3 separate regions of the Homo sapiens genome follow, and regions 2 and 3 are each linked to region 1. The links come from fine-mapping of genetic effects on gene expression. A gene starts in region 1. Each other region holds a variant in brackets. All regions are shown on one strand. Distances are between the middles of the regions.

Region 1 (5,000 bases):
TAATTATCTGAACACTAAGGGGAGAAAACTTAACTTCTCTATGTTCAGCAATTGGCACAGTGTTTGGAACATACTAGGCACCCAAAGATTTGCTAGAAAAAAAACATTATGAAGGGACCAATAACAAGAGGAGCTGAAGATGGCGAGGGGGTACTGATAGGAAAAGAATCATGAGTAAATAATAAACCTCATATGAGAAAGATATACACGATATGTATCTATTTAAGATGTAAAATGATAAACGACAAAAGTAAGAGCATTAGGCATGGGGAGGCTTTTTTGTATTGTATACTCCTGCCCATCTGAAATTTTTAGTAAGAATAGAATTATCTCAACTTTCAGACTAAAAGGTATAGTGTGAAAGCTTCAGGGAGATTTGTAACAACAGTAAATAAAATGAATTGCGAGGACAACTGTCTGGGAAGCCATGACAGAAGTCCAAAAGAGAAGTAATGGCAGGCACATTGCGGGATTGGTGGCAGTGAAAATGGAATGTGAATGACAAAGATTTTTAAGATAAGAAAACCATGGCTGGCGTTTTTTGTCCATTAAATGAAAAGCAGGAAGTCAGCAGAGTAGCTGGTTTGTGGAGAAAGAATACTCACACATCGATGTGAATTATTTCAATTAGAAAATGATACTGCTTTCTTAGGGCTTTCTTAACTAGGGGTGATTCTGCCCTCCAGGGGACATACTAGCAATATCTAGAGACATTTTCACTGATCACAACTGGGTAAGGGTAGGGTGGGGAACGGGTGTCCTACTGTAATCTAGTGAATAGAAGCCAGGAATGCTGCTAAACATCCTACAATGTTTGAGCACAGGATAGCTCCCCACAATAAAGAATTATGAGGCCCAAAATGTTAACAGTACTGAGGCTGAGAAACCATGTTTAAGACTATAGTTACCGAAACTCAACTAGATTACCAAACTGCCAAAACTCAGAATTCTTAAGCAAAAGATTAATCAGACATTAACAAAACATTAAACTTGTCATTAAGTTTCTTCAAAAATGGATGGTGGAACCATTTCCGTTTAACGTTTCCTGCAAAATGTGCTTATCAAGAGCCCTGCGCAAATAACATTTTTGTGGACAGCGCTGGGCATTTAAAAGAGGCACAAGACAAATGGGTTTTCCGAACAATAAAATAATAGTAGTAATGGCTGTGAATACTATGGGAGGTTTCATCACAGATGCTTGCCATTTACTTTTAGGGACGTCGCATACGACGTCCGTAAATTACTGGCTCGGGTTTTGAGCTTTACCTGGCTCTCGTCCCCTGTAGTACAATCCTCTTTATTCTTTCAGGGGACAAACAACAACAAAACCCGTCTCTCACACAGACAATACACCCTGACAGACAAGTGACCCACAAACAATCCCTCCTCAAATGAAGGTAAAACTAGGGCTAGAAAACGTTCAACTAATTTAAGGCAATTAACCCTCTGAAATTTTTCGCTGATCAAAGGAACAGGAATTGCTGTTTTAAAATATGCAACTGGCATTTCACACCTCTACACTGGACGACGTATTGCGTGGAGGATGGAGAAGGAAGATCACCCCTACTCCCAAATTCGTAGTTATAAGGGCGGGTTATTAGAAGGGCGCCAGGAAGGTCTCTCTACAAAGATGGGGGGCCGGGGAACTCCCTATTTGCCCTATTTTGGTCCCAACACTGAACCAAGGAAATTGCGCCCAAGGTTGAAGCACACGCAATCCGTCCGTCATGCAGACAAATGCTCTTTCAGGGGTCCTAATTAAGTGTGGAGGCCTGACTTTCCTTCCGAATCCGCCCCAGGTGTTCCACCCCGAGCTTCCCCTCGGGCTTCCCCTCGCCACGCAGCCTCTGAAGAGAGGAGCATCTACATACAAAGAGGCTTAAACTGCCCAGAACCTCCGAATGACGAAGAATCACCGCCAGTCTCAACTCGTAAGCTGGGAGGCAAAACCCCAAAGCTTCCCTACCAAGGGAAAACCTTTGGCCTCAAAGGTCCTTCTGTCCAGCATAGCCGGGTCCAATAACCCTCCATCCCGCGTCCGCGCTTACCCAATACAAGCCGGGCTACGTCCGAGGGTAACAACATGATCAAAACCACAGCAGGAACCACAATAAGGAACAAGACTCAGGTTAAAGCAAACACAGCGACAGCTCCTGCGCCGCATCTCCTGGTTCCAGTGGCGGCACTGAACTCGCGGCAATTTGTCCCGCCTCTTTCGCTTCACGGCAGCCAATCGCTTCCGCCAGAGAAAGAAAGGCGCCGAAATGAAACCCGCCTCCGTTCGCCTTCGGAACTGTCGTCACTTCCGTCCTCAGACTTGGAGGGGCGGGGATGAGGAGGGCGGGGAGGACGACGAGGGCGAAGAGGGTGGGTGAGAGCCCCGGAGCCCGAGCCGAAGGGCGAGCCGCAAACGCTAAGTCGCTGGCCATTGGTGGACATGGCGCAGGCGCGTTTGCTCCGACGGGCCGAATGTTTTGGGGCAGTGTTTTGAGCGCGGAGACCGCGTGATACTGGATGCGCATGGGCATACCGTGCTCTGCGGCTGCTTGGCGTTGCTTCTTCCTCCAGAAGTGGGCGCTGGGCAGTCACGCAGGGTTTGAACCGGAAGCGGGAGTAGGTAGCTGCGTGGCTAACGGAGAAAAGAAGCCGTGGCCGCGGGAGGAGGCGAGAGGAGTCGGGATCTGCGCTGCAGCCACCGCCGCGGTTGATACTACTTTGACCTTCCGAGTGCAGTGGTAGGGGCGCGGAGGCAACGCAGCGGCTTCTGCGCTGGGAAATTCAGTCGTGTGCGACCCAGTCTGTCCTCTCCCCAGACCGCCAATCTCATGCACCCCTCCAGAGTGGCCCTTGACTCCTCCCTCTCCTCACTCCATCTTTCCTGGCCTCTCTCCGGGTGCTTAGCGGACTTGGCCAATAACCTCCTCCTTTTAAACGCCCTGAATTGAACCCTGCCTCCTGCGCATCCTCTTTTTGTGTCACCTTAGGGTTCAGATTTAACTACGCGACTTGACTAGTCATCTTTTGATCTCTCTCTCGTATTTAGTACTTTTAGTCAGCGAGCATTTATTGATATTTCAACTTCAGCCTCGCGGTTAAGAGCTTGGGCTCTGGAATCATACGGCTGGAATTGGAATTCTGTCAGTCGTGTGGCCGCTCTCTACTGTCTTGTGAAGATAAGTGAGATAATCTTGACCTGTGGTGAGCACTCGTGAGCGTTAGCTGCTGTATTTACCAGGTACAGATAAGACAACTACAGTGGATGATAATGTATGTGGTGATAGGGGAGTACTCTGATGGTAGAGGAGTGACTTTGGTTCTCTGCAAACTCAGCCTGAGACTATCAATTCAGTTTGTGGTGAGACCTCGCAGTGTTACCTTGGCAGATGGTAGAAGCCTTCCAGATGGAAGGAAAAATGCGTGTAAAGGCACAAAGTGTAGAAGGACCCTGAAGCTCCAGCGTGAGGCCTGGCATTGAATGAAATATATTTTGTGGGTTTTCAGCTGCTGAAGTCATAGGAATGGATGAGACCAAGAAAACAAAGCTGTTTTTGAGGTATGAGCGGAAGAAGAGATATCAGGAGACTTTCGAAACAGTCATAACGGAAGTTAATATGATCATTGCTAACATTTGCTGTGTTTCAGGCACTGTAAGCATGTATATGGGTCCTTAAAGGGACTCATAGAGGTAGGTACTAGTATTGTTTTTCCTTTTATCATTGAGAAACTGAGGTTTGAAGAGATTAGTGAACTTGCTCTAGATTATACAGTTTGTAAGTGGCTGAACCAGGATTTGAACTAATACAATCTGACTACAGAGGCCACACTCCTTAGCACTAGAAAAGAATGGCATGCCAAGGGCAGAGTTATTTCTAGGAAGATGGGATATAAGCGTCATTGTCAAGTTGTGCAAAGGGGTCAACTTGGTTGAGATCTAAAAAGGAACACTGAATTCGTCAATTCAGAGGCTCGTAGGAAGTAGGAAATCCTTATCTTTTCGTTTGAACCTTGAGTGGAACCTAGATATTCTGGATTAATGTATAAATGAAGTTCATCTTTATATGGTGACACTCATACTCTAGTTGACTACCTAATAGTTCCTCTGCCTTCTTTCAGTTCCGCCAACATACTGTGTTCTTTAACATTGTAGAACCCTTTGGCTATGCTAGTCTCCTTCCCTGAAGTGTTGGTCCTCTAGCCCTTTTTTTGATTGGCACCAGTTAGTTCAGATCTTGGCTTTATTATAAACTCCTCTGAGATATATGTTCCCTGACAGTTTATCTAAAATGATTCTCTCTACAGTTATTTTCTATTACTGTGTTTTTGTTTCCTCAGAGGCATACATCACAATTTGGAATTATGCATTGGTTTATCAATTTACTTGTTTATTGTCACCCTGCTGCCCAGATATGACTTCATGAGGGTAGGATTTGTATCTGTTTAGTTCATTATTTGTCTAGCTATAAGTAGTAAATATTGTTTGCATCTATCAGTGAATGAGCATCTTCTGTTTATGTAGATAATACTGAACTGTTTTGTTTTCTTCAAAGTAATCATTAAGCTGAAGGTAAGAAAAACAAGTTCAAGGAAGTCACACCATGGGGAAAAAAAAGTCAAGTTTAGGGCTGCCTCTTCCGGGAAGTGTCAAATCTTTAGTATATTTAGGAATAAAGGTGCCAAACCTTATGGTTCTTTGGATATTGCTAAGGTATTTTCATTGGTTAGATTACCAGTTTCATTTTCCTTATTGACTCAAGAGGGCTTTAAACTGAGATTGAAGAAGTAAGAAGATTCCTAGATAAAACCATAAGGAATGGAAAAACAAAAATGATAATACTTGTCCACAGGAAGTATATAATCAAATGAAAAGAACTCAAATAACAATCTGTAATCTATAGCAGAGTAAAGCGGAAGTTGTAATAGTGTTGGGGGATGGGGGAAGTCAGAAGAACCACCAGTGAATATAAAAGGAGAAGAGAATCAGAGCCATCTGCTAATAAAAT
Region 2 (11,173 bases), 220 kb after region 1:
AAAAAAAGGAATGGAGGTTATTCATAGGCTCAGCAACATGAATTTCTACCCACTAGATCTGGCTACTGCCACCACTGAGAGAGTCCAACTTGCCAACACAGAGACTAACACTGAGCCCCTGGTATGGCATAATTCCTTGGGGGAACTACCTAGCTTCCTTGAGACAAAAATTGATTATTTGGAACACTTCCATTATGGAAAGGGCAACACTTCTTTTCTCACTGGAATTGACATCTGATCCTTCCATGTGCACAGTGTTTCCACAAAAACCTTCTGTGTACTTTGAAAATGCTTTATTCTCTGTCATGGTATTCCACACAGCATTGCTCCTGATTAGAGAACTTGGTTCACAACAAGTGTAGCACACCAATGGGCCCATGCTTGTGAAATTCATAAATCTTACCTTGTTCCCAATCACCCTGAAGTAACTGGCCTGATAGAATAGTGGAATGGCATGTTAAAGACTCAGTTGCAATTTAGAATTCAGTGATAACACTTTTCAGACTAGGACGACATCCTCTATGTTGTAGTAGATGCTCTGAATGAATATCGTGCTATTTCTCACACAGCCAGCATCCATGAATTTGGGAATTAAGTGGTAGAAATGGAAGTGGCTCCCTCTCAATATTATCTTTAATGATCCACTAGTGAAAATTTTGCTTCCTGTCCTTCTTTGTACCTTTGTGCTCTGCAGATATAATGGTCTTAGTTTCCACAGGAAGAACGTTTCCACCAAAGTACATACCAATGTTAAAATGGAAACTGATACTGCCACCTGACCATCTTGTTCTCCTCATACCAATAAACCAACATGAAAAAAAAAAGACAATTACCATACTGGCTGGGGTAATTAATCCTGATTCTTAGGAGAAAATGAGCTATTACTACCAGTAGAAATTAAGGAAGATGTCTAGAATTCAGGAGAACTTTTGGGGTGTTTTTTAGTAATACCATATTCTGTAAGAAAAGTTAATGGAAAATTATAACAACCCCAAACAGGCAGAATTGTTAAAGGTCTAGCCCCTTTAGGAATGAAGTTTTGCGTCATTCCCTTCCTCCACCCCTGAGCAAGGAACCACAACCAGCTGAAGTGCTTGCTGAAAAAAAGAGAGAATATGAAATAGCTAGTGGAAGAAAAAAGTTAAAAATACCAGCTATGATTCCCATAATTAGCTGCAGAAACAGGTAGTATCTATGAGTATTTCTTCTATATATCTGCATATAAATATTAGCCATTTTTTTCTTTTGTTTTCTCCTGCTCCCATTCCCCTAAAACAAATGTAAAGTGTGTTAATCATAGTGTGGTAGGCAGCATAACGCTCCCTAACAAAAGATGTTCACACCTAATCCCTGTAATCTGTAATGTGTAAATATGCTGTTACATGGAGAGGGTGAATTAGGATTGCATTTGGAACTAAGGTTGCTAATCAGCTGACTTTGACACAGGGAAATTATCCTCATTGGCCCAAGGTAATTGCAAGGGTCCGTATAAAGGACATAGAAGAGTCAGCAAGAGTGGTGTGATGAGGGAAAGACTTGACAGGTCATTGCTGGTTTTGAAAATAGACAGGGGTTGCTCCAGGAAAGGATTTTAGGAGGAAAAAAAAAAAAAAGAAAGAAAATAGAAGGGCATAATGAGCCAAGGATGCGGGCAACTTCTAGAAGGAGGAAAAGGCAGGAAATTCTTCCCTAGAGCCTCCAGAGAGAACACAAGCTCTGCTGACGCTTGATTTTAGCCCAGTGAAGCCCATTTCAGACTTCTGACCTCCAGAACCGTAAGATAATACATTTTTGTGGTTTAAAGCACTAACTTTGTGGCAATTTTTACAGTAGCATTAGGAAATTAATACAAGTACTTAACCTTCCACCTGGTATTTAAAGTATAAGATATCATAGGTAGAGTATGGTTCAGCAAAAAGAGGAATAAAAATGATCCAAAAAGGGATAAAGGTACTTTTGGGAAGGTTGTGAATATGCTTTGGCCTGTATGAGGAATGTTAGGTGGAAGCATGGTTTTGATTCTATTTGGAAGTTAAATATGGTTAAAAGGGATTTGTATGGATGCCAAGGTGACAAGGGGTAGACTCAGCTGGGTTATTCTATTGTCAACTTGACCAAACAAGGACAAATATAAAGAAAATGACATATAGACACATCATAATCAAACTGCTAAAAACCAAAGACAAAGACGCAATTTAAAAGCAGCCAGAAAATAAATACCACAATACTTTCAGAGTAGAAACGGTAACACTATTTATTGACTTTTTAATAGAAACTATGGGAGACAGAATACAATGGAATGCCATCTGAGTGCTGAGGGGGGAAAAATCCCAATAACATGCCAGTCCAGATTTCTATGAAATGTGATAATATTCTTTGAAAATAAAAAGGAAATAAATATGCTTTTAGACAAACAAAAGCTGAAGGGATTTTTCACAGGAGGTCTGGCATCTAAGAAATCTTATAAGAAATACTACAGACACATCTATAGTTCCAGAACTTTGGGAGGCTGACATGGGAAGATCACTTGAGGCTAGGAGTTTGAGACCCACCAGGTCAACATATTAAGAACCCATTACGACAAAAAAAAAAAAAAAAGGGGGGGGGTGGACAAAATTTTAAAAATTATCTAGGTGTGGTGATGCACACCTGAAGTCCTAGCTACTCAGTAGCTTGAGGTAGGAGGATCACTTGAGCTCAGGAATTCGAGGCTACAGTGAGCTATGATTGCACCACTGCACTCCAGCCTGGGTGACAGAGCAAGAACTTGCCTCTCAAAAACAAAATCAAACTACAGAGAATTCTTGAGTTGGCAGAAAATTAATACCATAAGGAAGCAAATAAGGCTGCAGGAACAAATGAAGGGCTCTGGAAATGGTTTGTATCTGGATAGATAAAAATAGATACTGAAGGCTGGGTGCAGTGGCTCACGCCTGTAATCCCAGCACTTTGGGAGGCTGAGGCGGGCAGATCATGAGGTCAAGAGATCGAAACCATCCTGGCCAACATGGTGAAACCCCGTCTCTACTAAGCATACAAAAATTAGCTGGGCATGGTGGCGCATGTCTGTAGTCCCAGCTACTCGGGAGGCTGAGGCAGGAGAATCGCTTGAATCCGGGAGGCAGAGGCAGAGGTTGCAGTGAGCTGAGATAGCACCACTGCACTCCAGCCTGGTGACAGGTGAGACTCAGTCTTAAAAAAAAAAAAAAAAAAAAAAAAAAAAAAAGGATAAGGAAATTAAACGGAAAAACACCCCACATTCACAGATTGGAAGCCTTAGTATTGTTAAGATGACAGTATTACCCAAAGCAATGTACAGATTCAATGTAATCACTATCCAAAATCCCAACGGCACTTTTTGAAAAAATAGAAAAGCCCATCCTAAAATCTATGTGGAACACAAGGGACCCTGAATAGCCAAACAGTCTTGAAAAAGAATAAAATAAGTGAAAAAGTGTGAGTTGGAGAGCCATACTTCCGGATTTCAAAACTTACTAAAGCTACAATAATCAAAACAGTTTGGTACTGGCCTAAGGACAGATATATAGGCCAATGGAATAGCATAGAGAGCCTCCAAATAGACTCATATATATGTCGTCAACTCATTTTTGACAAGGGTTTCAAAACCATTCAATGAAGAGGACAGTATTTTCAACAAATGTATCCGTGACAATTATATACCCACATGAAAAATAATGAAATTGGGTCCTTAATTTACACCATATGCAACATTAAATCAAAATGGATCAAAGATTTAGGTGGCATGCAGTGGCTCACGCCTATAATTTCAGCAATTTGGGAGGCCGAGACGGGCAGATCACTTGAGGTCAGGAGTTTGAGACCAGCCTGGCCAACGTGGTGAAACCCTGTCTCCACTAAAAATACAAAAATTAGCTGGGCATGTGGCGCACTCCTGTAGTCCCAGCTACTCGGTAGGCTGAGGCAAAAGAATCCCTCAAACCTGGGAGGCGGAGTTGGCACTGAGCTGAGATTGAGTCACTGCACTCCAGCTTGGGCAACAAAGCAAGATTTCGTCTGGAAAAAAAAAAAATCAAAGATCCAAATATAAGAGTTAAAGCCATAAAACTCCTAGAAGAAAATATGGGGGAAAAGCTTCATGACGTTGGATTTGGTAATGATTTCTTGGATATAACACCAAAAGCACAAGAAACAAAATGAACAAAAAGATAAACTGGACTACATAAAAATCAGACTGGGTGCAGTGGCTCACGCTTGTAATCCTAGCACTTTGGGAGGCCAAGGCGGGCAGATCACTTGAGGTCAGGAGTTTGAGACCAGTCTGGCCAACACAGTGAAACCCCATTTCTACTAAAAATACAAAAATTAGCCAGGCATGGTGGTGGTCGCCTGTAGTCCCAGCTACTCAGGAGGCTGAGGCAGAAGAATCATTTGAACGCAGGAGGCAGAGGTTGCAGTGAACCGAGACTGTGCCACTGCACTCCAGCCTGGGTGACAGAGCGAGACTCCATCTAAAAAAAAAAAATTAAAACTTTTTGTGCATCAAAGGACACTAACAAGAGAGTAAAAGGGCAATCCACAAAATGGGAGAAAATATTTGCAAAGCAGATCTTCGAAACATAAAGAACTGCTACATCTCAACAACAAATGCAAAACAACTCAATGTAAAAATGGGCAAAGGTCTTGAATATATATTTCTCCAAAGAAGACTTACAAGTGGTCAATAAGGACAAAAAAGATGATCAATATCACTAGTCATAAGGGAAATGTAAATCAAAACTGCAATGAGATACGACTTAACATCCATTAGAATGGCTATTACCAAAAAACTTGAAAATAGCAAGTATTGGCAAGGATATAGAGCAACTGGAAACCTTGTGCATTGCTGGTGGGAATGTAAAATGGTACAGCCACTGTGGTAAAGTTTGGCAGTTCCTCACAAAGTCAAACATTGAATTACATAATCCAGCAATTCCACTTCTAGACATATACCAAAAAGAAAGCAATGGCTCAAACAGATATTTTTACATCAATTTATTAGCAGCATTATTCACAGTAACCAAAAAGTGGAAATAGCCCAAATGTCCATTAACAGATGAATGGATAAATACAATGTAGCATATAGATATATAATGGAATATTATCCATCCTTAGAAAGGAATGAAATTCTGATACATGCTATAAATTGGATGAACATTGAAAATGTTATGTTGAGTAAAATAAGCCAGATACAAAAAGATAAATCCACTTAAATGAGGTACCTAAAATAGGAAAATTCACAGAGACACAAAGTAGAATAGAGATAACTGGGGTCTGGTGGTTAGGAGGTTTTTGTTTAATGGGTACATGAGGTTTTGTTTGGGATGATGAAAAAGCTGTGGAAATGGATACTGGTGATAGGTGCACAACATTATGAATATACTTAATGTAATTGAGTTATACACCTAAAAACGGTTAAACTGGTAAATTTTATGTTATGAACATTTTACTACAATAAAAAAGTGAACACTGGCTGTTTAAAACAAGAATAATAATGTCTCCTGGTACTTAAAACAAAAGTGTAAGTGAAATATCTGGAAATAACAGGACAAAGGTGAAGAGGCTAAAGTGAGTTAACATGTTATGAGCTTCTTACATTGTTCTGAAAAGGGTAAAAGTACTAATTTAAGGTAGAGACTAACTAATCAAGGGCAAATATTGTAACTTTGCCCTTTCTAGCTTAACCCTCTAAAAGAATATATAGCTGTTCTAATCATCTATTACTGTGTAGTAAAGTACCTCAAAACTTAGTAGTGTAAAAACAACCACCATTTTATTATGCTCATAATTATGGGTTACGAATTCTGGTAGGGAATAGTAGGGAAGTCTTGTCTCATCTCCACAATGACTGAGGCTTCAGCGGGGATGACTTGAACAGTAGAAATGGCTGGGATGGCTCAAGTGGGGCCCAATATCAAGGACCTGCATTCTAGCTGTCAGCTAGGTCTCTTGGTTCTTTTCCTTATTACACTTATTGGGCATGGAATATAAAAAATGGCCTTTTCACTTACGTATCTGCTTAAGTGGGCTGTAATATCTGTTAAAACAGGATAGTCAATCATCAATCTCTGGAGGCAACCTCTCCATGAGGCTAGCCTGGGATTCACTTCAGCATGGCAGTTTCAGGGCAGTTATCCTTCCTACATGGTGGCTGTTCTCACTCAGAATGAACATTTCAGGACACAGACTTGGACACTGCAATGCTTTTTATGACCTAGACTAAGAGGTTCCAGAATGTCATGTCCTATTTTAGTGGTTTTAATGGTAAAGCAAGTTACTAAAATAGCCTAGATGAAAGGGAAAATATGACCGATAGGAAGAGGAGGTTCCAAGATGGCCAAATAGGAAGAGCCCCAGTCTACAGCTCCCAGCATGAGCAACGCAGAAGACAGGTGATTTCGGCATTTCCAAGTGAGGTACCGGGTTCATCTCACTGGGGCTTGTCAGACAGTGGGTGCAGCCCAAGGAGCATGAGCCAAAGCAGGGCAACGCACTGCCTCACCCAGGAAGTGCAAGGGGTTGGGGAATTCCCTTTCCTAGCCAAGGGAAGCCGTGACAGATGGTACCTGGAAAATTAGGACACTCCCACCCTAATACTGTGCTTTTCCAACAGTCTTAGCAAACAGCACACCAGGAGATTATATCCTGCACCTGGCTCAGAGGGTCCCACACCCACGGAACCTTGCTCACTACTAACACAGCAGTCTGAGATTGAACTGCAAGGCGGCAGC[G/A]AGGCTGGAGGAGAGGCGTCTGCCATTGCTGAGGCTTGAGTAGGTAAACAAAGCAGCCGGGAAGCTCGAATTGGGTGGAGCCCACCAACAGTTCAAGGAGGCCTGCCTGCCTCTGTAGACTCCACCTCTGGGGGCAGGGCATAGCTGAACAAAAGGCAGCAGAAACTTCTGCAGACTTAAACGTCCCTGTCTGACAGCTTTGAAAAGAGTAGTTGTTATCCCAGCATGGAGTTTGAGATGAGAGAATGGGCAGACTGCCTCCTCAAGTGGGTCCCTGACCCCCAAGTAGCCTAACTGGGAGGCACCCCCCAGTAGGGGCAGACTGACACCTCATACGGCCAGGTGCCCCTCTGAGACAAAGCTTCCGGAGGAAGGATTAGGCAGCAACAATTGCCATTCTGCAATATTTGCTGTTCTGCAGCCTCCGCTGGTGATACCCAGGCAAACAAGGTCTGGAGTGGACTTCCAGCAAAGTCCAACAGACCTGCAGCTGCGGGTCCTATTAGAAGGAAAACTAACAAACAGAAAGGACACCCACACCAAAATCCCATCTGTATGTCACCATCATCAAAGACCAAAGGTAGAGAAAACCACAAAGACGGGGAGAAACCAGAGCAGAAAAGCTGAAAATTCTAAATATCAGAATGCCTCTTCTCCTCCAAAGGAATGCAGCTCCTTGCCAGCAACAGAACAAAGCTGGATGGAAAATGACTTTGATGAGTTGAGAGAAGAAGGCTTCAGATGATCAGTAATAACAAACTTCTCCGAGCTAAAGGAGGATGTTCAAACCTATCACAAAGAAGCTAAAAACCTTGAAAAAAGATGAGATGAATGGTTAACTAGAAGAAACAGTGTAGAGAAGACCTTAAATCACTTGATGGAGCTGAAAACCATGGCAAGAGAACTAGGTGATGCATGCACAAGCTTCAGTACCCGATTCAATCAAGTGGAAGAAAGGGTATCAGTGATTGAAGATCAAAAGAATGAAAGGAAGCCAGAAGAGAAGTTTAGAGAAAAAAGAGGAAAAAGAACGAACAAAGCCTCTAAGAAATGTGGGACTATGTGAAAAGATGAAACTTACGTCTGATTGGTGTACCTGAAAGTGATGTGGAGAATGGAATCAAGTTGGAAAACACTCTTAAGAATACTATCCAGGAGAACTTCCCCAACCTAGCAAAACAGGCCAAAATTCAAATTCAGGAAATACAGAGAATGCCACAAAGATACTCCTCGAGAAGAGCAATCCCAAGACACATAATTGTCAGATTCACCAAAGTTGAAATGAAGGAAAAAATATTAAGGGCAGCCAGAGAGAAAGGTCGGGTTACCCACAAAGGGAAACCCATCAGAATAACAGCGGATCTCTCAGCAGAAACTCTACAAGCCAGAAGACAGTGGGGGCCAATATTCAACATTCTTAAAGAAAAGAATTTTCAACCCAGAATTTCATATCCAGCCAAACTAAGCTTCATCAGTGAAGGAAAAATAAAATACTTTACAGACAAGCAAATGCTGAGAGATTTTGTCATCACCAGGCCTCCCTTACAACAGCTCCTGAAGGAAGCACTAAACATGGAAAGGAACAACCAGTACCAGCCACTGCAAAAACATTGTAAAGACCATCGATGCTAGGAAGAAACAACATCAACTAACGAGAAAAATAACCAGCTAACATCATAATGACAGGATCAAATTCACATATAATAATATTAACTTTAAATGTAAATGGGCTAAATGCTCCAACTAAAAGACACAGACTGGCAAATTGGATAAAGATTCAAGACCCATCACTGTGCTGTATTCAGGAGACCCATCTCATGTGCAGAGACACACATAGGCTCAAAATAAAGGGATGGAGGAAGATCTAACAAGCAAATGGAAAACAAACAAACAAAAAAAGCAGGGGCTACAATCCTAGCCTCTGATAAAACAGACTTACACCAACAAAGATCAAAAGAGACAAAGAAGGCCATTACGTAATTATAAAGGGATCAATTCAACAAGAAGAGCTAACTATCCTAAATATATATGCACCCAATACAGGAGCACCCAGATTCATAAAGCAAGTCCTGAGTGACCTACAAAGAGACTTAGACTCCCACACAATAATAATAGGAGACTTTAACACCCCACTGTCAACATGAGACAGATCAACGAAACAGAAGGTTAACAAGGATATCCAGGAATTGAACTCAGCTCTGCACCAAGCAGACCTCATAGACATCTACAGAACTCTCCACCCCAAATCAAGAGAATATACATTTTTACAGCATCACACGACACCTATCCCAAAATTGACCCCATAGTTGGAAGCACTCCTCAGCAAATGTAAAAGAACAGAAATTATAACAAACTGTCTCTCAGACCACAGTGACATCAAACTAGAACTCAGGATTAAGAAACTCACTCAAAACCGCTCAACTACATGGAAACTGAACAACCTGCTCCTGAATGACTACTGGGTACATAACAAAATGAAGGCAGAAATAAAGATGTTCTTTGAAACCAACCAGAACAAAGACACAACATACCAGAATCTCTGGGACACATTTAAAGTAGTGTGTAGACAGAAATTTATAGCACTAAATTACCACCAGAGAAAGCAGGAAAGATCTACAATTGACACCCTAACATCACAATTAAAAGAACTAGAGAAGCAAGAGCAAAAACATTCAAAAGCTAGCAGAAGGCAAGAAATAACTAAGTTCAGAGCGGAACTGAAAGAAATAGAGACACAAAAAACCCTTCAAAAAATCAATGAATCCAGGAGCTGGGTTTTTAAAAAGATCAACAAAATTGATAGACCACTAGCAAGACTAATAAAGAAGAAAAGAGAGAAGAATCAAATAGACGCAATAAAAAATGATAAAGGGGATATCACCACCGATCCCACAGAAATACAAACTACCATCAGAGAATACTATAAACACCTCTACGCAAATAAACTAGAAAATCTAGAAGAAATGGATAAATTCCTGGATACATACACCCTCCCAAGACTAAACCATGAAGATGAATCCCTGAATAGACCAATAACAGGCCCTGAAATTGAGGCAATAATTAATAGCCTACCAACCAAAAAAAAGTCCAGGACCAGACGGATTCACAGCCGAATTCTACCAGAGGTACAAAGAGGAGCTGCTACCATTCCTTCTGAAACTATCCCAATCAATAGAAAAAGAAGGAATCCTCCCTAACTCATTTTATGAGGCCAACATCATCCTGACACCAAAGCCTGGCAGAGACACAACAAAAAAAGAGAATTTTAGACCAATATCCCTGATGAACATCGATGCAAAAACCCTCCATAAAATACTGGCAAACCGCATCCAGCAGCACATCAAAAAGCTTATCCACAGGGTGGAGCCAAGATGGCCGAATAGGAACAGCTCCAGTCTACAGCTCCCAGCATGAGCGACGCAGAAGACAGGTGATTTCTGAATTTCCATCTGAGGTACCAGGTTCATCTCACTACGGAGTGCCAGGCAGTGGGTGTAGGACACTGGGTACAGCGCACCGTGCACGAGCTGAAGCAGGGCAAGGCATTGCCTCACTCCGGCAGCGCAAGGGGTCAGGGAGTTCCCTTTCCTAGTCAAAGAAAGGGGTGACAGATGGCACCTGGAAAATCCAGTCACTTCCCATCCTAATACTGCACTTTTGCAACGGGCTTAAAAAACGGCACACCAGGAGATTATATCCCACACATGGCTCGGAGGGTCCTACGCCCACGGAGTCTTGCTGATTGCTAGCACAGCAGTCTGAGATCAAACTGCAAGGCAGCAGCAAGGCTGGAGGAGGGGTGCCTGCCATTGCCCAGGCTTGATTTGGTAAACAAAGCAGCCGGGAAGCTCCAACTGGATGGAGCCCACCACAGCTCAAGGAGGCCTGCCTGCCTCTGTAGGCTCCACCTCTGGGGGAAGGGCACAGACAAACAAAAAGACAGCAGTAACCTCTGCAGACTTACATGTCCCTGTCTGACAGCTTTGAAGAGAGTAGTGGTTCTCCCAGCATGCAGCTGGAGATCTGAGAATGGGCAGACTGCCTCCTCAAGTGGGTCCCTGACCCCCGAGCAGCCTAACTGGGAGGCACCCCCCAGTAAGGGCAGACTGACAACTCACGCAGCAGGGTACTCCTCTGAGACAAAACTTCCAGAGGAACGATCAGGCAGCAGCATTTGCAGGTCACCAATATCCACTGTTCTATAGCCACCGCTGTTCTGCAGCCACCACTGCTGATACCCAGGCAAACAGGGTCTGGAGTGGACCTCTAGCAAACTCCAACGGACCTGTAGCTGAGGGTCCTGTCTGTCAGAAGGAAAACTAACAAATAGAAAGGACATCCACACCAAAAACCCATCTGTATGTCACCATAATCAAACACCAAAAGTAGATAAAACCACAAAGATGGGGAAAAAACAGAGCAGA
Region 3 (11,173 bases), 74 kb before region 1:
ATTTATTAACTCTGTGGCCTTGGGCAAGTTCTCAATGTCCTTAAGCCGATTTTTAGCTGCAGAAATCTGTCTTGCCTTCTTCCTAAGGACTTAACAGATGCTATTTTGTTACTTTATAAAAAGCCTTATAACTTCATTTTTTTTCTTAGCTTAGATCATGGTTTCTTAACCTCAGCACTATTGACTTTTGCACTAAGTAATTCTTTGTTGTAGGGACTGTTCTATGCATTGTAGATGTTTAGCAGAATCCTTAGTCTTTACCCAGTGGCATCTGAACTATTCTGACAACCAAAAACATCTCTAGGTGGTGCCAATGTTCCTAGAGGCAAATACCCCCAAACTCCCCCCCAATGAAAATCAGTGTCTTAGATTACTGGAGTAATTTTATAAAGTGTAGAATCCTAGAAAAGGAAGACATATATTTACATATATTAAAGGGGCTAGGAAATGTGCATTTAATGGGCTAAACTTGGCTTGTGCATATTCTATACAGTAAAAAAAAAAAGATTTTAACAACCCCCCCCCCCCTTTTTTTAAACAGCATTTGCTGACGCTGCTGTAGAACCTATTGATTTTCCAATTGCTCCTGTATATGCTGCATCTATGGTGAGAACAAAGTGAGGGGCGATACTCCATTATGCTAGCTTCTGGTTTGCTTATACCAAGGTTGCAGTTTTTAAGATTTTAAATGTTATCTGCCAAAGCAGAGAGATAGCTTGGTTTCAAATCTTCCCATGTCTTCTCCTGAAAAGAGTAAGAGCAACAAGGATAACAAACAAAAAAAAAAAAATAAAGAACAGCTCACAAACTACATCTTCAGTAGAACAGGTAAAACTACACATCTGAATTACTTGTAAGTATCATACAGAACTCACACACCTGGTGTGGTAACCACAAAGCGGAGGGAATGCTGGCTGATGGTTCCAGATCTAGAATGGAAAGCAACTAGTCACTCCCCAGGAGAGGACTCCATTCTGAAAGGGAACAGCTGGCAGCAGGTCTTCAGAGTAAATAGTAAAACTAGAGACAGAAAACCTACATATTCCAAATTGTCAGTAAGGGCTATCCAAGTCTCAGTGGGAAATTGCTAAGCAGTCACAGGAAAAGAAAGTTTTAGGGGTTCAGGGTTCTTAGAAATCTTAAGTAAATATTTCCTTTTGAGAGGGCCTCACCCTGACAGTAAACTTCTGTAAGCACCCAGATAAAAAAAATTGCAGAATTTTAGTAAAATCAGATTCTCCCCACTGCCCCCAACCCCCGCAATGAAAAAAAAAACTGCAGAATCAGTAGGAAACAAGAATAGAGAAGATCAGAAACAAGGGGCCAGTGGAGTGATGATCTGCTCAGAGCTAGCAGATCTCAGAAAATGAAAGGAACACGCAGCTTCTGAAAGTGAGTAACATCACGTTGGAAAGCAAGGGTAATAAACAATTCTGGATTCTGAAGGTAGAATAACTTCTGAGAGCTACAGACATAGCTATATATGGGTACCATATTTTGTTTTGTGTTGTTGGAACAGTGGAAGCTGTTTGAGCTGTATAGGCTAGAAAGCTACCCTTAGTCCACTAGTAGAAGAGAGGAAGATGGAGGAAGAGTTCCACGTTAATTTTATTATCGCTCACAACAATCAAATTTCTTCTGTAAAGAAAAAGGGCACTCACTAGTAATGTTTTAGGGCACTCACTAGTAATGTTTTAAAAAGTATTAGCATAGGGATAATCACTGGCACAAATACACCTTCCTGCATAGCTGAGGAACTACCAAAACAAAACAGATCATATAGTGTAAGATTTTAAATAAATGACTTACAATGAAACTGCAACAGATGTAAATATCTGTGGCCCAGATAACCCTACAGTAACATTTATAAAGCAGAAACTGCAGGGGATGCATTAATATCACTAATATTAGAAACTAATATACCTCTTTCATTAACAGTCAAGAACATAGAAATGGCTGGGTGCAGTGGCGCTCGCCTGTAATCCCAGCGCTTTGGGAGGCAGATCGCTTGAGCCTGGGAGGTCAAGGCTGCAGTGGGCCATGACTGTGCCATTCCACTTCAGCCTGGGTGACAGAGCAAGACCCTGTCTCAAAATAAATCAACAACAACAAAAAAGAATATAGAACCAAGCAACACACAATCAGTAAAGCAGAGCTTAAGAATATATAAAGCATTATGTGCCCCTAAATAGAAAATGTACCTTTTCAAATATCTGTGGAAAGAAAATCAAATTTTCTGTCCCCTATGTCAAAACAGACATAATGCAAACAAAATTCTTTGATATAATGGAATAAGATGAGCAACTAAAAATCTGAAAATGGGCCGGGTGCGGTGGCT[C/A]ACGCCTGTAATCCCAGCACTTTGGGAGGCTGAAGTGAGCAGATCACCTGAGGTCAGGAGTTTGAGACCAGCCTGGCCAAACATGGTGAAACCCTGTCTCTACTAAAAATACAAAAAATTAGCTGGGCATGGTGGTGGGCATCTGTAATCCCAGCTACTCAGGAGGCTGAGACAGGAGAACTGCTTGAACCTGGGAGGCAGAGGTTATAGTGAGCCAAGATGGCGCCATTGCACTCCAGCCTGGGAGACAGAGCAAGACTGTTGGAAAAAAAAAAAATCTGAAAATAGAGATCCTTCCATCTGAAACCAAGAACTTCCATATTTAAATAACTTATGTCAAACTGTAGTATTTCAAGGAAATGATGACAGTAAGTTGTGATTGCTAATTATTTGAACATCATCTGTCTTTTAAAAAATTTAAGGTTCTTAAAGATGTGGGATTGAAAAAAGAAGATATTGCAATGTGGGAAGTAAATGAAGCCTTTAGTCTGGTTGTACTAGCAAACATTAAAATGTTGGAGATTGATCCCCAAAAAGTGAATATCAATGGAGGAGCTGTTTCTCTGGGACATCCAATTGGGTAGGTAAAAATAATAACTATATCTAGGTTAAGAGCTGCCTTTGTGTTTCTAGCTAAACTTAAAACTGCTTCATAATTCCCATTGCTCTTAAGTTTTCCTTCCTACCCATCTTTCATAAGGCAAAAACCATTTCTGATAGATGGTATCCAATACTGAACAGAGACCTGTCACATCTGTTATTTGAAACCTAATAATGTTTTATGCTGAAGAAGAAAAAGTGTACATTTAGACTTTTTACCCCCTTTTTCTCCTTCCTATTTATTTCATTAGCTTTAGGGTACCGTGGGTTTTGGTTACATGGATGAATTTATAGTGGTGGGGGCTGATTTCAGTGCACCTGTCAGTCACCCAATATGTAGTTTATCCCACATCCCTCTTCCATTATACTCTACTCTTCTATCCATTATACTGTTCTGTACTTTTAAAAGATCTGTGACCTGGCCAGGCACGGTGGCTCACGCCTGTAATCCTAGCACTTTGGGAGGCTGAGGTGAACAGATCACGAGGTCAAGAGATAGAGGCCATCCTGGCCAACATGGCGAAACCCTGTCTCTACTAAAAATACGAAAATTAGCTGGGTGTGGTGGTGCACGCCTGTAGTCCCAGCTACTTGGGAGGCTGAGGCAGGAGAATCGCTTGAACCCAGGAGGTGGATGTTGCAGTGAGCTGAGATTCTGCCATTGCACTCCAGCCTGGCGACAGAGCGAGACTCCATCTCAAAAAATGATCTAAGATCTGTGACCCTTCCTGAAACAAGTCCTCCAAGTTTTAGTTTTAGAATAGTAGTAGTTAATTCAGCAAGTAGTAGTGGCTAGTAAGGTTTTCAAGAAGTTAAATTGGAATAGAAACATTTTGGTTAGTCATAAATTCTGTACTTCATTAAAGAAGTAAATGCTTTCTTAATTTTAGGATGTCTGGAGCCAGGATTGTTGGTCATTTGACTCATGCCTTGAAGCAAGGAGAATACGGTCTTGCCAGTATTTGCAATGGAGGAGGAGGTGCTTCTGCCATGCTAATTCAGAAGCTGTAGACAACCTCTGCTATTTAAGGAGACAACCCTATGTGACCAGAAGGCCTGCTGTAATCAGTGTGACTACTGTGGGTCAGCTTATATTCAGATAAGCTGTTTCATTTTTTATTATTTTCTATGTTAACTTTTAAAAATCAAAATGATGAAATCCCAAAACATTTTGAAATTAAAAATAAATTTCTTCTTCTGCTTTTTTCTTGGTAACCTTGAAAAGTTTGATACATTTTTGCATTCTGAGTCTATACTTATCGAAATATGGTAGAAATACCAATGTGTAATATTAGTGACTTACATAAGTAGCTAGAAGTTTCCATTTGTGAGAACACATTTATATTTTTGAGGATTGTTAAAGGTCAAGTGAATGCTCTTTATAGGTAATTTACATTTAGTAAATTACGGTAAATTAAATTACTTCTCTTTACAGTAAGAGTTGGCTATTCTGGACAAACTAGCAGTGCTTCATATAATCACTCAAACCACAGTGTGTGCAGCAGTACTAGAAACAAGACAGAAGCCCATGTCCTCAGGGTCTAGAGTGGGGGCAATTTCTTATAACCTCAACATTCAGGGTTGGGGGAGGTCAAGCAGAAAACCCTGGAGTTTGGGCTCTGAATTACTATAGCAGCATAGAGAGTGGGAAGGGAGGTAGAAACTGATATGCTGAATGGATATATAAAAAAGGGAACAGATCACCACTTCCAATACACGACAATGCCTGTTCTTAAGCAGGACAGACTGTAACAGAAGTATCTCGCATTGCATTTTATCTGGGAAAAAATTAATTAATTAAAACGCTACAGGCAGGGGCTATGCACACTACCCTCAATTGCAGCTCTGAAGAGGGAAAACTCCCCCTCAGGAAGAGGAGGGGGCAGTAAAGGTCATTGTGTACACATTATCTGTTGGCAAATAATGTATTGTAGATCTTTTGAAGGAGCAAAATGACAATATATGGGAGAAATAGATTAGATTGCTCTTCAGATTCAGAGGAAGAGTAGAGTATTTTCAAAAACATCTGTAATCATCACCAACTTTTGAGGCTTGTTATGTGCTTTATATGTATAAACTCATTTAATTGTCACAAAAACTTCTAAGAGTGGGTACCATTATTATCCCTCCTTTATAAACAAGGAAATTGAGGCATAGAGTAGCTAAATAAATTCCAAGGGCAAAAAGCTGGCTAGGATTCAACTCCAAGTTAGTCAAGCTCCAGAGCCCACGTTCTTAACTTACTATGCTTTAGTTAAATGCCTTTCAATAATTATCTGCCCCGACTTACAAAAACTTCTAACTGAACCAGGAGCTGGATAAGATATAGGAGAAAAGGAAACCCAAAACATGAGAATACTTCATTGAAGATAAGCAGAAACTAACATTGCATCCAAAGGTCATTGATCTGGAAAACATCTGAGAAGTGCTCTGACAATTCTGGGAAAAAATGGAAAAGAGAGAAGAAACAGAGAATCAAGTAAGTAGGTTTTTTAATTTGTTTTAAAGAGATAAGGTATTGCTCTGTCGCCTGGGCTGGAGTGCAGTGGCATGACCATAGCTCACTGTAACCTTGAACTCCTGGGTTCTCAAGTGATCTGCCTCCCTCAGCCTCCTGAGTAGTTAGGACTATAGGCACATGCTACCATGCACAGCTTAAATGGTGTTTCCTAAAAAAAAAAAAAAAGATACTCTGAAGCAATAATTTAATATAACAGAAAACATAAAGATAATAGAAAAACTCAGATTTTTAAGTCCTAAGGGGGAAGATTTTAAAGAGCATTTTTTTTTTTTCTTTTTTGAGACAGAGTTTTGCTTCGTAGCTCAGGCTGGAATGCAGTGGCACGATCTTGGCTCACTGCAACCTCCGCTCCCTGGGTTCAAGCGATTCTCGTGCCTCAGCCTCCTGAGTATACAGGCATGCGCCACCAAACCTAGCTATTTTATTTTCAGTAGAGAGAAGAGTTTTGCCATGTAGGCCTGGCTGGTCTCGAACTCCTGACTTCAGGTGATCCTTCTGCCTCGGCCTCCCGAAGTGCTGGGATTATAGGCATGAGCCACCACGCCCAGCCCTAAAGAGCATATTTTATTGGCAAAATTAATTAGCAGAAAATCATACTAAGACATTCTGGAGAAAATGTATTAAATTCCTCTAACATCTAGTTAGAAAAATAGGTAGCCACAGTTCTTATTTCTATTACATTCAATCCAAGAAAACAAGTGACAGGACATCTAACTGTTTTTAATGAAACAAAATAAGATACTAAAAGGTGTGTCTCAAACACAGAAAAGTTTAGAAAATAAAGTACTCTGATGTTTCCTCCAAAAATGACAAAGGTTTAGGCAAGCCCATGGAATGAAGAATTAAGAATTCAGTTAGGTGAAAGTTTCTAATTTTTTAAATGACTGCTTAAGGACTGGCTGGGGAAGAAGGAAAGGTAGTGGTTGAAGGAAATAAAAATGTTTTACCTCAAATTATATTTATTTGACATATTTTGAGATGGCTATCAGAGGGCCAGCAAACAGAAGTGGTGCTGCAAAGCTGTCTTTTTTGAAAGAAATCTGCGTCTATGGAGAATCTCCATTAATGCAGCCAGGACTTCCCTTGTCTGGAATCTAGAAAAGGTTAAATGAGAGCCTGTCTGACACCTTTAAAGGTCTTAAACATTTAACATCCATTCTCTCAGAAAGCTTCTAACAAGACCACCTTTCCTAGCCAGGTCTCCTTTCCCTACCCGTAACCTGTGTTGCCACTAAAACCTGATTTACCAAAATAACATGTTTTTGGCCATGCTGGGAGCTCACATTACTTCTGTAACCTGAAGATGGTATAAAGTTCCTACACCTGGCCGGACACAGGGGCTCATGTCTGTAATCCTGGCACTTTTGAGAGGCCCAGATGGGCAGCTCACCTGAGGTAAGAAGTTCGACAGCAGTCTGGCCAACATGGTGAAACCCTGTCTCTACTATAAATACAAAAATTAGCCGGTCGTGGTGGCGCATGCCTGTAGTCCCTGCAACTCAGGAGGCTGAGGTGGAAGAATCGCTTCAACCCAGGAGGCAGAGGTTGCAGTGAGCCAAGATCACACCATTGGACTCTAGCCTGGGCAACAGAGTGAGACTGTCTCAAAAAAAAAAAAAAAAAAAAGTTTCTACACCCCACTGGGGGCGGGGTCAGGTCTTTGTCTGAAGGCCCCCATGTATACAACATTAAATAAATGTATATTCCTTTTCTCCAATTAATCTGCCTTTTGCAAACAGCTTTATTTTCCAGCAAACCTTCAGAGGGCCAAGGGGAACTTCAAGGTTACAGTGAAATGATCCTGCCACTGTACTGGGGGACAGAGGGAGACCTTGTCTCTTAAACAAAGAAAAGAAATACCATTTACTTTCTGGTTCTCTATTTTTTCTCTTCCTTTCCATTTTTTCCCCAGAATTTTCAGAGCACTTTTCAAATGTTTTCCAGATCACCAACCTTTGGATGCACTACTTACCTTCAGTGAAGTATTCTAAAATATGTTGAGTTTCCTTTTTTCCTTGTATTTTCCTTTTTTTTCTTGTGTTTTACACCTACCTCCTGGTTTCCCTTGGCCTTTACATGGTGAAATATCGGTAACATGTTATCTTTATCTGCTAAATAAAGGTAAACGCTAGTAGGACAAGTTCTGAGACTGCCCTCACGGGACTTACAAGAATTGCATGCTGGGTCCTGGACAGAAATATAGTTATAACTAGGCACTAAACAGGCTGCACCTTGGCCCACTTCCTAAACCCTCGGGGAGAGATTTGAAGTTTCCTCCAGTCTCCTCATTCGGTGGCCCTGCAATTAAACATCTTTCTTTGCTGCAGCCCAGGGTCTTACATACTGACTTGTCATGCACAATGGGCAATGGACCTGTTATGGTTACAGTTCCATATCTTAAGTTACTATAAGACAACAGCTTTAAAATCCAATAATAAAGTAAAAAGAGGCTGGGCGAGGTGGCTCACGCCTGTAATCCCAGCATTTTTGGAGGCCGAGGCAGGTGGATCATCTGAGGTCAGGAGTTCGAAGACCAGCTTGGCCAACATGGAGAAAACCCGTCTCTACTAAAAGTACAAAATTAGCCGGGCGTGGTCGTGCATACCCGTAATCCCAGCTACGTGGGAGGCTGAGGCAGGAGAATCGTTTGGGCCAGGGAGGTGGAGGTTGTGGTGAGCTGAGATCATGCCACTGCACTCTAGCCTGGGCAACAAGAGCGAAACTCTGTCTCAAAAAAAAAAAAAAAAAAAAAAAAAAAAAAAAAAAGTAAAAAGGGTTGCATGTATCATAAATTATGAGAAGGCAGAAACTGTTAAAATGGGGAAAGAACTACTTTTTATGATGGTCTACTTTGTACTTTTTTTTTTGGCAGAAAAAAAGCCAAAGCTATGACCAAGATAATAATGTTTCATGGATTAAACAAACACTTGTGAAAAAAGTATTAAAGCAAAGACAGGATTCAAACAGTATAAGACTGAATACATATCAAACTTTACCTTTCTAAACAATACCTATTTCTTTTTTAACTTTTTTTTTGAGATAGGGTCTTGCTCTGTTGCCCAGGTTGTAGTGCAGTGGCATGGTCTCATCTCACTGCAGCCTTGACTTCCTGGGCTCAAGTGATACACCCACCTCAGCCTCCCTGGTAGCTAGGACCACAGGTGCATACTACCATGCCTGGCTAATTTTTGGTAGAGATGGGGGTTTCATCATGTTGCCCAGGTTGGTCTCGAACTCCTGGGCTCAAGTGATCTGCCTGCCTTGGCCTCCCAAAGTGCTGGGATTACAGGTGTGAGCCACCATGCCCAGCCAACATTACCTATTTCTAAGCCCCCGTGCAACATTTATAAAACCTGCAACTTATCCTGACCACAATAATAAAAATTTTAGGCAAAAAAGAGCCTGGTATCATTTATTGTAAATAGTTATGTATGAATATTAAAAGTACTTACCCAAATTTTGCTGAAAGTTGAAATCAGAAGCAAATTCACAGCCTTAAATGCTTACATGGTTTAAGAAGGGGAAAAAAAAATCAGATAACTGTTTATTAATTTAAGTTAAATAAACATGCAAAAAGGACCCTGAGAAAGTAGGAAGCACAAAGAATAGGCTCCTATACAACTGTTGAATCTAAGAAGTGTTTTTGACAGAAAAAAGTTAATTGTATCTTAGAGAACAAAAGCCAAAATTAAAAAAAATGTGATATTTGACTCAGGAAAAAAAAGGTCAAAGCCTGAATAGATAATCAGCCAGGAAGAAATTTAGGAGAAAAAAAAATGGAAAACTGCTTAAGCAAAAGGCTCCAGGCCTAGATAATTTAGTAGTGATTTAGTCTCAAGGAACAGTTATTTCTCATTCTAAATAAACTGTTGCAGAAAAAAGAAATAAAAAACAGCATCAGCTATAATAGCAACTAGTTCTTAAAGTGCTTATTATGTTCCAGGCATTAATCTAAGTGCTTTTACATATATTGTACAATTTAAACTTCACACTTTAGCACTGGTACTATTTATTATCCCCAATATTCAAATAAACTAGAAAAAGAAGGAAAGGTTTAAAATTCATTTTAAAAACTGGCATAAGTTTGAAACCAATCTCATTAAAAGTAAACTTTTCATTGGGTGTGTTGGTGTGCACTTGTAGTCCCAGCTACTCATGAAGTTGAGGCAGGAGGATCCTTTGAGCCCAGTAGTTCAAGGCTATAGTGGGCTATGACTGTGCCCATGAACAGCCACTGCACTCTAGCCTGGGCAATATAGCAAGACCTTGTCTCAAAAACAAAAACCAAAAACATTTAAATAAAATATTCACAAAGCAAACTTACTTAAAATAATCACTAATATAAAAAGAAATTCATGAGTTCAATGAAAATATTTTAATTGATGCTTAAACGTGGCAATTAAGTTGAACAGGTACTTCTGATGTAAAATCGTAAAACTCTACCAACAAAAGCAAACATTATACTTAATAAAAGCAAACATTATACCTAACATTGCCATTAAAATGGGGAACAAGACAATGAAGCAGACTTTGATCATTATTAGTTGCACTGGAAGTGCTAATATCAGTGTAGTAAAAATAAATAAAATTGGAAAATAATTATTTACAGATAATACTTCACAAATTAAAAAGTAGCACTGGTAAATCCATTAGTACTAACAGACTTCACTCAGTATAGAAAATAAATAGAACTAAAATATAAAAGATTTTGGGACTGGCACAGTGGCTCACGCCTGTAATCCCAGCACCTCGGGAGGCTGAGGTGGGTGAATCACCTGAGGTCAGGAGTTCAAGACCAGCCTGGACAATATGGTGAAACCCTGTCTCTACTAAAAATACAAAAATTAACTGGGTGTGGTGGCGCACAACTGTAATCCCAGCTACTGAGGAGGCTCAGGAAGGAGAATTGCTTGAACCTGGGAGGCGGAGGTTACAGTCACCAGAGATGACACCAATGCCCTCTGGCCTGGGCGACAGAGTGAGACTATCTCAAAAAAAAAAAAAAAAAGATTTTCAACATTAATTAAGACAGTGTGTTATTAGCACATCTTAAAGAAAGCAGACCAATGGAACAGCATAGAGTCCAGAAACAAACCTACACATTTACCAGCTTATGAGAAAAGTAACTGTGCAATGTAGTTGGGAAAGGATAATCTTTGGTAATAAATAGTGTGGGTTAATTGTATATCAATGTGGAAAATCAATTCCAGATAGATGGTCAAATCAAAATGAAATAGGTTGAACCATAACGCTTTCAGAAGAATAACAAGGGAGAATACTCAGACACCTAACATCCATCCGAAAAAGGACCTGTATCCAGAATACAGAAAGAACACGTAAAAATCAGTAAGAAAAAGGCAGACACCCAATACTAAAATGGGCAAAAACCTTGGACTGTCCACAAAAGATAACCCAAATAGTATTTGAAAAGGTTTTCAACTTCATTAAAAAAAAAACAAAACCCAAAAAACCAACACCAAATTAAAACCAAAACATATACCAATACACACCACTAAAATGGCTAAATGAAAATATCTAACATCAGAAATAACACAGAGTATCGAGAACTTATTATACTGTTGAGTGCAGCATAAGTTGTTACAACCATTCTGGAAAATGAAAAAATCTGAATGTCTGAATATATGCAACTGTGTTCCAGCAACCCTATTCCTAAGTATTTATCCAACTGAGAAGTGTAATGCATTCATAAAAAA

The links. PIP is the estimated chance that this variant, and not a neighbour inherited with it, causes the effect. A credible set is the group of variants that fine-mapping cannot tell apart.
Region 2: its variant is the best candidate, but not a certain one, in a credible set for the expression of NPAT in blood mononuclear cells (TOPMed, PIP 0.54).
Region 3: its variant is the best candidate, but not a certain one, in a credible set for the expression of NPAT in whole blood (INTERVAL, PIP 0.76).

Annotation. Positions count from the first base shown.
Region 1 is chr11:108,220,452-108,225,451 of GRCh38, forward strand. It overlaps NPAT (nuclear protein, coactivator of histone transcription), which reads right to left and starts at 2,187. Exons shown (of 18, transcript NM_002519.3): 1 at 2,049-2,187. The coding sequence starts at 2,085. It overlaps ATM (ATM serine/threonine kinase), which reads left to right and starts at 2,616. Exons shown (of 63, transcript NM_000051.4): 1 at 2,616-2,735. RefSeq lists enhancers at 2,083-2,142, 2,553-2,712, 3,023-3,102, 3,453-3,502, 4,999-5,000.
Region 2 is chr11:108,434,513-108,445,685 of GRCh38, forward strand. All of the region lies in intron 2 of C11orf65 (chromosome 11 open reading frame 65), which reads right to left. Among named protein-coding and RNA genes, the nearest start is that of C11orf65, 27 kb to the right of the region's middle. RefSeq lists an enhancer at 4,345-4,489 and a cis regulatory region at 4,417. The variant G/A (reference allele first, on the strand shown) is at 6,750.
Region 3 is chr11:108,143,442-108,154,614 of GRCh38, forward strand. ACAT1 (acetyl-CoA acetyltransferase 1) reads left to right here. Exons shown (of 12, transcript NM_000019.4): 10 at 542-606; 11 at 2,761-2,918; 12 at 3,829-4,162. The coding sequence ends at 3,949. Among named protein-coding and RNA genes, the nearest start is that of ACAT1, 27 kb to the left of the region's middle. RefSeq lists a silencer at 7,328-7,496. The variant C/A (reference allele first, on the strand shown) is at 2,339.